Linked DNA regions of Homo sapiens. The protein of the gene in region 1 purifies or fractionates together with the protein of each later gene. This does not show direct contact. Each region holds a gene or a part of one and is shown on either strand. Other genes may lie near its edges. The genes, in order: RIPOR1, APPL2 and MYO7A.

Evidence for each region.
Region 2: the proteins of RIPOR1 (region 1) and APPL2 fractionate together in Homo sapiens (co-fractionation; one large-scale study listed by BioGRID). This does not show direct contact.
Region 3: the proteins of RIPOR1 (region 1) and MYO7A purify together in Homo sapiens (affinity purification with mass spectrometry, with the first as the bait; one large-scale study listed by BioGRID). This does not show direct contact.

What each region holds. Positions count from the first base shown.
Region 1 is NC_000016.10:67,527,233-67,530,985, forward strand, and holds the start of RIPOR1 (rho family-interacting cell polarization regulator 1), read left to right. Parts: upstream 1-1,596; 5' UTR 1,597-1,682; exon of another isoform or gene 1,683-2,590; coding exon of another isoform or gene 2,591-2,627; exon of another isoform or gene 2,628-2,855; intron 2,856-3,368; exon of another isoform or gene 3,369-3,753. UniProt on the Homo sapiens protein: Downstream effector protein for Rho-type small GTPases that plays a role in cell polarity and directional migration.
Region 2 is NC_000012.12:105,172,687-105,175,027, forward strand, and holds the end of APPL2 (DCC-interacting protein 13-beta), read right to left. Parts: intron 1,763-2,341; coding exon 1,628-1,762; 3' UTR 614-1,627; downstream 1-613. UniProt on the Homo sapiens protein: Multifunctional adapter protein that binds to various membrane receptors, nuclear factors and signaling proteins to regulate many processes, such as cell proliferation, immune response, endosomal trafficking and cell metabolism.
Region 3 is NC_000011.10:77,134,593-77,138,245, forward strand, and holds part of MYO7A (unconventional myosin-VIIa), read left to right. Parts: intron 1-3,620; exon of another isoform or gene 3,621-3,653. UniProt on the Homo sapiens protein: Myosins are actin-based motor molecules with ATPase activity. Unconventional myosins serve in intracellular movements. Their highly divergent tails bind to membranous compartments, which are then moved relative to actin filaments.

The DNA.
Region 1 (3,753 bases):
GGCCAACATGGTGAAACCCCATCTCTACCAAAAATATAAAAATTAGCCGGGACATCTCTACCAAAAATATAGAAATTAGAAGGCGGAGGTTGCAGTGAGCCGAGATCACGCCACTATACTCCAGCCTGGGCAACAGAGGGAGACTCCGTCCCCCAAAAAAAAACAAAAAAGAAAGAAAGAAAAGGGCACTACAAAGGAAGCCCAAGAGGAGGGGCTGGAGAGTGGAGAACTGTGAGGCAGAGGTGGCTCAAGCCTGTAATCCCAGTACTTTGGGAGGCCAAGGTGGGAGGATCGCTTGAGCCCAGTTAGAGACCAGTCTGAGCAACATGAAGAAAGCCCATCTCTAAAAAACCGACCAAACAGGCTGGGCGCGGTGGCTCATGCCTGTAATCCCAGCACTTTGGGAGGCCAAGGCGGGCAGATCACGAGGTCAGGAGATCGAGACCATCCTGGCTAACATGGTGAAACCCCATCTCTACCAAAAATACAAAAAATTAGCCGGGCGTGGTGTGGGCGCCTGTAGTCCCAGCTACTCGGGAGGCTGAGGCAGGAGAATGGCATGAACCTGGGAGGTGGAGCTTGCACTGCATTCCAGCCTGGGCGACAGTGACACTCTGTCTCAAAAAAAAAAAAAAAAAACCCGACCAAACAAAACCAAGCAAACAAGCAAAACACACAAAAAAACAGCCCTCAGGACTGGTGGGGGCGGGGTACAGATATTCAGGGACCTCTTACTGTCCCTGAAACCATTCCTGGGTAGGTCTGACATACATGAGGGCTGCGGGAGTGCAAGGCCTGGAGAAGCCTCAGGGGTGTCCAGGTTGGAAGGGCCAGGGGTGTCTGATTGATGGGAGGAGCGGGGGAGTGGAACTGGCCCTTTGACCCCAACATGGGGTCGACTCTCAGCCCCACCTTTACCGACTGTGTGGAGGGCCAGCATTCTAGCCCCGGCTTTGGAAAGGACTGGGTTGCCCAACACATGGCCCTGTACCCGGACCCTGCCAGCGTCCCCACCCCAAGACTGCCCGAAAACCAGTACCCAATGAGTGGGGAATGCATGACCCGGCTATGAGCCTGGACTTACCAGCCAGACAGTGGCAGAAAGGGCGGCCTGCCTCTACAGCGACGCTGAGGCTGGCTGAAATGGCAGGGCTGAAGGGCAGCGTCTGGACCCAGAAGGTGCCAGGCGGCTTCTGGACTCCCCAAGGCCTTCACAACAGCCCTGGATCCTTTCCACCAACCAGCCTAAGCCAGCAGTAGCAGCTCCAGGACCTGTTTCAGGTGGTCACGGACAGGGGGCCCGCAAGGTCTCCAGAGCCCGAGGGATCTGGGGAGGGGACAAGCAGGCGGGGCTCCCTGGCGCTCACCGTTTTAGGGTCTGCGTGAGAAAGCCTCCCTCACATCCCCCAGGGTCTGCCCTCCCTGCAAGCTGGTGGGCTGCGTGGGCCACCGGCCTGCCCCGTTATCCGAGAGGGCGGAGCGAGCCGTGGGCGCCTCTAGGGGTGCGGGAGCCGCGGGAGCGCAGGGGGTGGGGCCCGGCGGGCCAGGGGAGGGGCGGCGGGGCGGCGGGCGGAGGGAGGGGCCGGCGCCTGCGGCGGCGACAGCGGCAGCTGCGGCGCGACCAGGCCGGGCACCTCCGAGCGCAAGGACAGCGCGAGGTCCGCGCAGCCCAGCGCAGCCATGTGAGTGTCCCGCGCCGTTTCCGGGGCTGCAGGCCGGGCGGGGAGCAGGCGCGGAGGTTCTGGTGCCCCCCCGCCGGCGCCGCCCGGTGGGTCCGGGATCTGCGGCTCTGTCCCGCCTCACCCCATCTCCCGGACCCCGGCCGCGCCTTGTCTTTCCTCCCCTCCCCCCGGGCGTGGAGAACGCAGCTTCTCCCACAAAAGCCGCCGCCTCCGGGCCTGCAGAGCCTGGCGCTGCTGCCTTCCTCCCACGGCAAGGCCCTGGCGGCCGGTGCCCCGGGGCGCTGGGATGGGCCAGGCCAGAGAGCGGGCTCAAGGCGCCAGCCTGGGCCCTGGCACGCGCGCTCCCTGGGAGCCCTTGCTGCCTTCGCCGCAGGGGAGGCTGGGCTGGAAATGGGGAGGGGGCGACGAAGGGTGCGGGCCGGCCTAGGAGCTGAGCTAATCCTCCTAGCTCTAGGGGCCGGCCTAAGCGGCTTTGTGGCCGGCCCCGAGGTGACCGAGCCTGGGCTGGAGCCGGGCTCTCCGCCCAAACCTGGCGTAGCCGAAGCCGGAGAGGATCGTCCTTGTCGGGGAACGGAGCTTTTCCCTGGAAATGGAGGTTGGCGCAAGGTTCCTGCAACAGCCGGGCCTGGGCTCTCTGCAGAACTGGTTTGGGCAAGGGGCTGCTCACCAGGGCTAGAGGTCGGATTCAGTCCAGATTCAGCACCCTTTGTCCTCCTCTCCAGGGTGAGCCCTGAGTCCGGCCTCCCCTACAGACCCTCCCCAGCCAGTTCTAACGTGTGTCCAGGCTGGCCGCCCCAGCACCTACTGTGCGCAGCCTCGTGTAACAATACTTGTGCCCTGGCTGCAGTCTGCGGGGCCGCGCCCTGGGCCTGCCGCATTCGGCCAACGCACAGCATCTGAGGAGGGTTATGACCATCTGGCAGATGCAGAAACAGGCCCAGAGAGGTTAGTAGTATTCTCAAGGTCACACAGCTGGTTTGGGAGAAGCGAGGATTAGATCTGAGTCCTTGCCCCTGCGACACCCACCTCCGTGGTATTGGAGGGAGGAGAGGAATGATAATTGGGGGCTGAGGTACAAAATACTCCAGCGGGACAAGGAGGACTGGCATAGCTCCTTCTTCCACCGCCCTCTCCGGCTTGGGTCCTGTGACTGCGGCGGGAGAGAGGAGCAAGGTGAGCCGCCCCAGGGGTCTGGGTTTGGGTGCGGGTGAGGGGAGGACTCAGGACTCTGGGCTGGGTCCCGCTTGAGAGAAGCGGGCGGGGAGGGCGCGGGTGAGTCACGGCGGCCCCTCTGCGTCGCCGCTCGGACTCAGCCCTGGCCAGGCCCGGCCCGGGGGAGGCCGCCTGGCTCCCAGCGCGCGGCCAGGGAATGTAACCAGCTGACCAGGGAGGGGGCCGGCAGGAAGTGAGGCCACCCGACAGCCTCCGCCCGGTTCCGGGGTGGGGGGTCCGGGGCTGTGCCGCTCCCCCTCCCTCCTATACGCTTGGGCAGCTGCGAGATGACGTCAGCCGCCGGGTTTGGGGGCAGTTGCCATGGAGACAAGGACAGGCTCAGAAGGGACCCCCTTCTCCCTTGCAGCCGCCCCTTGCCCAGGTTATTTTTAGCCTCTGTTTACCTCGGTCGGGGCGGCCCCGGGGTGGGGCGGGGCTAGACCCGGGGACTCCCAGAGAGGCAGCTGGCCTGGCACAGTGCTGAGATGGGCAGCCCAGGTGGTGGGATATTCCGCCGCACCCGGGTGTGCCAGTCTTGGTGTGTAGGAAGTATAGCGGGGCTGCAAGATCTGGGGCCATGCGGACAGGTCAGGGCTCCTCCACTCACGGCCATCCTGACCTGGCTGTGCTGCAAGCCCCATAACCTTTGGAACCTTGGATCTGGGTTATTTCCCATCCTGGGAACAGACTATAGGGCTGACATGAGCCCAGAGAGTCCCCTGGTTCTTATCAGCCAGTCCCCCACCAGTTGAGGTGGCCCTTCTGCCTTAGCTCAAGGGGTTCAGCTCTTTCCCTACCTGCTCTCACCCAGCAAGGGCAATCTTGCCCGCCCATCTCCCGAAGCGGTCACTCAGATGGA
Region 2 (2,341 bases), on another chromosome or scaffold:
TTATTTAAGCCATGCAGTCTTTTAAAATGGTGGATTAATAAAATAACTTTTGTAATACAAAATTAGGTTAACATCATAGGATCCATTTGAAATGTATAAAGAAATGTATAGTGTTTCACTTTTCAAACTAATAATTGTTTAGGACTTCAGATTCTACCCCTCTCCCAAAAAAGTCTAAGCAAGAAAAAAAAAGTTCAGGGGACTGTGGTTCTTGCAGTCTGTCAGAGAACCAATTGATCTAAAGCAGTTATGTCATACAAATTTGTAAGGCATTAGTGAACAATGAATTAATTTTACAGTGCATAATCTCATACTGGCTTAGACTGGCTCACTATTTCTTTTATGGTGTATACATTTCAAATGGATCCTATATTAACCTAATTTTGGATTACAAAAGTTGTTTTATCCACCATTTTAAAAGCAACACCTTTAAAACTTTTAGCAATGGGATCACATATTCTACTCATGTTGACTGGAAGTATTTTTTGATACTATATCCCCTCTTCTGTGATTTCATTATGCCCTAGTTTTTGGGAAATTGAATGTTAAAGCTATAGAGCTGACTTTAGTTTTCTTCCAGGGATGTTCTAGAAAATAACCACATCTAACGAAAGAAACAGAATATTTTTTATTGCTAGGTTAATTTATTACAAAGATAATAATAGTCTGTTGAACTTAGTTACAGTTAAACACACTGTACCGATTCAAAATCATTATACTAGTTTGATAGGGAGGAGGGATGGGGGAGTGGGCTGGGGTTCCAGGAATTGGAAGTATCAGGGTGGAAATAGGAACTTTATACCAAGCCCCATGACCAGCTGTGCTTCAAGTGAGTTTTAAAATTAATTGGTCCCTTCCCTGAAGAGGGTCTGGCTCAGAAGAAACAGGAACTGGTAGAGCTGCACCCTGTCCACAGTGATCCACTACTAAAAATACTCATACCTAGGAGGACCTTAAACTTCTGAATGCTGGTTCAGTAAGGCTCCACTGTAAAATCAAACATCTTTTGTGGTATTCATTTTTTTATTGCTTGATGTCTGGAACAGTTACCGAAACTAGACCTGTATCGCGCATCTCTACTAGTGCTTGGGCCTCAAAGCAGTGCTCATCACCTAACTGCACAAAGAAATGCTATTAGGTCCAATTATGAGATAAGCTGAATTATAAATACACAATTTTCAGAACGACAGGCACTTAAAGCTCATTAAGTAAAATACAAAAATAGATTATATTAATAAGAAATATTTAGTGTTCATCAAATTGTAAATCTAGGCTTTTGCCATTTTTTAAAAAGGATACTGGAAACTGAAAAGAGATGACATTCATATGAACAATGCATTTTTCAAACTTTTGTTCTGAGCGCTGAACAATCTAAGAAATTTTAGCGCAATCTAAGAAAAAAGACTTACCACAAAGCACCTAAAATAACATTGTAGATGGGTGGGAACGCTGTCAACCATTTCTTAGTTTCCCTCCCAAGTCTCAGTATCAAGGCATCAAGATTACATTCCACAAACGATTGTCAGCCTTCGGAAATCAGGTCAGTGTGCCTGTATGTCAGAGACGTTAAAACCCTTAGGAGGTAGCTCTCCTTCCTGTTTGCTCTTCCCCCACAGGCGCAAGTGAGTTATGCTTCGGATTCTGCGCCTCTATGTTCGTTTGGATTTCCATCATCGTCATCTGGTTGATCGTTTAACAGTACATATTTTCCGTCATTGGTTAGTGGTATGGACAGCATTAATTGAGCCAGTGCTTCTGGATCCTGAAGTTAGGAGAGTTTAAAAGGGAAAAAAGAAAAGGCTTAAGATGCATTTAAACCCCTTTGGCCTGGCTTTCAATATGTTCTGTAATCTAGTCTTGTTTCTCCTGACTCTTGTGTATATGTGCCTTCCGCTGAGTCTCCTTGCTTCTCAAACTCAGGCATGTCACTTCTAGAATCTAGACTGTTTTCCTCTGAGCCAAAATATTGTTTACGTAGTCAATTCGTATCATCTTCCCAAAGATTCCACAGAGGAACTTCCTTCACAGAACTTTTGTCTTCTCTATCTTTAAACTCCTTCTTTTCTCACGTTTAATCTATACCAGAAGTTGGCAAACTATGGTCATTTGGCTAACCATTTGATTTTTATTGGAAAACAGCTGCGGCCATTTATTTACATACTGTCCATGCTGCTGCTGCTTTTTTTTGGTGGGGGGGGGGGTGGTGCGGCGGTTGGAGACAGAGTCTCGCTCTATCGCCCAGGCTGGAGAGCAGTGGTATGATCTCAGCTCACTGCAACCTTCGCCTCCCCGGTTCAAACGATTCTTGTGCCTCAGTCTCCCGAGTAGCTGGGACTACAGG
Region 3 (3,653 bases), on another chromosome or scaffold:
AAGTGGCTGGGAGTACAGGCGCCTATCACTGTGCCTGGTTAAATATGACTTTTCTATTTATCTATGTAAGTGCCCTTACCAGTGTTCTTTAATTTTTTTGTATGGCTTTGCATCACTGTCTACTGTACTCTATTTTTTTTTCCAATTTTGTATTTTTTAAAATACATATAACAACATATACCACTTAACTTTTTTTTTTTTTTTTTTTGAGACAGAGTCTCACTCTGTCACCCAGGCTGGAGTGCAGTGGTGTGATTTCAGCTCACTCTGCAACTTCTGCCTCCCAGGTTTAAGTGATTCTCCTGCCTCAGCCTCCTGAGTACCTGGGATTACAGGTCCCTGCCACCATGCCCAGCTAATTTCTGTATTTTTAGTAGAGATGGGGTTTCACCATGTTGGCCAGGCTGGTCTTGAACCCCTGACCTCAGGTGATCTGCCCGCCTCAGCCTCCCAAAGTGCTGGAGTTACAGGAGTGAGCCCCATGGCTGGCCCCATTTAACCACTTTAAGTACATAGTTCAGTGGCATTAAATACATTCACAATGTTGTGTGACCATCACCACTATCAATTTCTGCAATTCTTTTCATCTTGTAAAATAAAGATTCTATCCATTAAACAATAACTCCCCATTCCCCTCTCCCCACCACCCTTGGCAACCACCATTCTGCTTTCTGGTTTTGATTTGACTATTCTAGGTGCCTCACATAAGTGGAATCATACACTATTTGTCTTTTTGTGATGGCTTACTTCACTTAGCATAATATCCTCAAGGTTCATCCATGTTGTATTAATAGCATGTGTCAGAATTTCCTTCCGTCTTAAGGCTGAGTAACGTTTTATTGTATGTTTATACCACATATTGTTTATTCATTCATCTATTGAGGAACACTTGGGTTGCTTCCATGTTTTAGCTATTATAATTAATACTGCTTTGAACATAGGTGTGCAAAGACCTCTTTGAGATTCTGCTTTTAATTCTTTTGAGTATATATCCAGAAGTAGAATTGCTGGGTCATATGGTAATTCTCATTTTAATTTTTTTAGGAACTGCCATAGTGTTTTTCACAACATTTGTATTATTTCACATTCCCACCAGCAGTGCATAAGGGTTCCATTTTCTCCACATCTTTACCAATACTTATTTTCTGTTTTGTTTTGTTTTGTTTTGTTTTGTAATAGCCATCCTAATGGGTGTGCAGTGGTATCTCATTGTGGTTTTGATTTGCATTATCCTAATGATGAATGATGTTGAGCATCTTTTCATGTGCCTTTGGTCGCTTTGTATATCTTTTTTGGAGAAATGTCTATTTCAGTCCTATGCCTATGTTTGTTTGTTTGTTTTGGAGACACAGTCTCACTCTGTCACCCAGGCTGGTGTACAGTAGTGCCATCAAACTCCTGCCTATGCCCACTTTTGAAATGGGTTGTTTGTTTTGTTGTTGTTCAATGTCTTTTAATCTTTAGCATTTCTTATAGGGCAGGTCAACTAGTGACAAACTCTCTCAGCTTTTGTTTACGTGGGAATGTCTTCATTTCTCCTTCCTTTGTGAGGGATAGTTATGCCAGATATAGAATTCTTTCTTGACAGTTTTTTTATTCTTTCATCATTTTAAATATGCCATCCTACTGCCCTCTGGCCGCCGTGGTTTCTGATGAGAAATCAGCCGAGACTCATACTAACGATTCGTTGTATAGAATGAGTCACCTCTCTGTTGCTGCTTTCAAGAGTCTCTGTCTTTGCCACTTGTGGAGAAGAGGCCTATTCCTCCAGCTCAAGGGTGGTCTCAGTAGTCGTTCTGGAACCAGGCAAGGTCAGGTTCTTAGCACCTTGCAGGGTCTCCCCCAGGGGACCTCTCTTTAGCCACCAGCCGCCAGACTTACTTTACAATCTCTTCCCTCTCTCCTCTGATTCTCTGAGTTTGCTGTTCCCTCTTCCTGGGATGCCCTTTCCCCTAATGTCTGCCTAAAAAAAAAATCTTAAAACCCAGCTGTCACCCCTAACACGACTCCCTTAGTTAACCATGGCTGGCACTCATATACATTTGGTCTAACAGGCACCAATCTAGGTGCATTACGCATCTTAACCTGTTAAATCCTCACGAGCACGTGGAAGCAGTGTCATTTTGTCACCTGACGGATGAGGAAAGAAAGGAACATAGAGGTTGAGGAACTTGCCCAAGGTAACACAGCTTGTGAGTGGCTGAGCTGGGATTGAAACTAAGCCATCTGACTCCAGGGTCCAAACTCTTAGTGGCCATGCTATCCTATGTCTCCGGGACTGATCTGCCTCTTATCTGGTGGTACCATCCTTATCTGTGCCTGGGTCTGTCCACCACACCAGGCTGGGAGCTCTGAGGACATGTCTTGTTAACAGTGTCCTCTGTACTTTAGTCTGAACCTGTACTCAGTGAAGGTCGGTTATATGAACTCGTGGTAGAATGCCTGGAAGCTCACCACCAGCACTTCCTTGTGTCTGAGGTCTGGGTCCTGTCCCAATGTACTGCTATAGATGGGCGGGGAGAGATAGGTGTGCCTGTTTTCGGCTTGACTGGGGGAAGGACCTCTCCTGAGAGCGGTGTCCCTGAGAGGTCACAGGAAGTGAGTGGGAATCACTGATCAGTCAGCTTCGTGCTGGACAGCAGAGCCCTGGGTTCCCAAGGCTGGGACAGGGAGTGGGGTAGAACTGGGCCCATCCTGGGTGGCTCTGAGCCCTGTGTGAGGCATCACCGTCTTTTTCGTTGCCATTCCCCCCACCCAGTCCCCCGCCCCCACTCTCTGCCGTTGTTCATTCGTTGGGGAGCAGTTGGCTTCCAGGATACTAGGCAATGCAGAGAGCCACAAATGCAGACTGGAGGCCTTGAAAAGAGAAGAGGAAGAAAAAGGAGGAAAGAGGGGAGGAGGACAAAGATAGGCAGGGCAAGGCGAGAAGGAGGGAATGGGAGAGGAGTCACAGGGCCTGGGCCTTCCGGACCCTCGGGATGGGACGGTGGCCTCTGGCTCACAGCCCAGCGTGGACCGACGCCTGGTGTCCAGCCCTGTGTGGCTGCTAGGACACAGGAGGCCAGCTTGGCCCATTGCAGGGAGAGCTCTGAGCCATCGAGGTGGTTCAGCTGTCCTGGGGAGTTCAGGGGACCCCACACCAGGCCTCCAAGGCCTCTTCTGCAGGATGGACGTGGGCTGCTATTTGACCTCGGGGGCTGCGGGAGGAGGACATAGCCTCTTCAGGGGCTTTCCCCCAAACTTACCCCAGAAGGAAACTGTATCTGCCCTCACTCCCCAGAGGCAGCCAGGGAGCCAGAAATATCTTCAATGCATCTCTCCTTTAGTCTTAAAAACCCCGGGAGTTTACCGCGTTCTAGTCCATAACATCCTCGTGTTTCCTTCCATGGAAAACATAGAAAAAAACATGACGATTTTTTCCAAAACTGCCGTCAGGTGCGGTGCCAGGTGCCACGTTTATCCCGGGCCTACCGCCGCGGTGCCAGTGAAGCCGCCTGGGATTCCGGGCAAAGTGGGGCTGTGGGGGGTTCGGCCGAGACGGAGGGGGCCGGGGTGGCGCGGGCGCCCCCTCGCCGTCCCGCCCGCGGGCGTCACCTAAGCCGCCGTTGCCATGGGCCCGCAGCAGATGGCCCGGTTTAGGGTTCCGGGGCGGG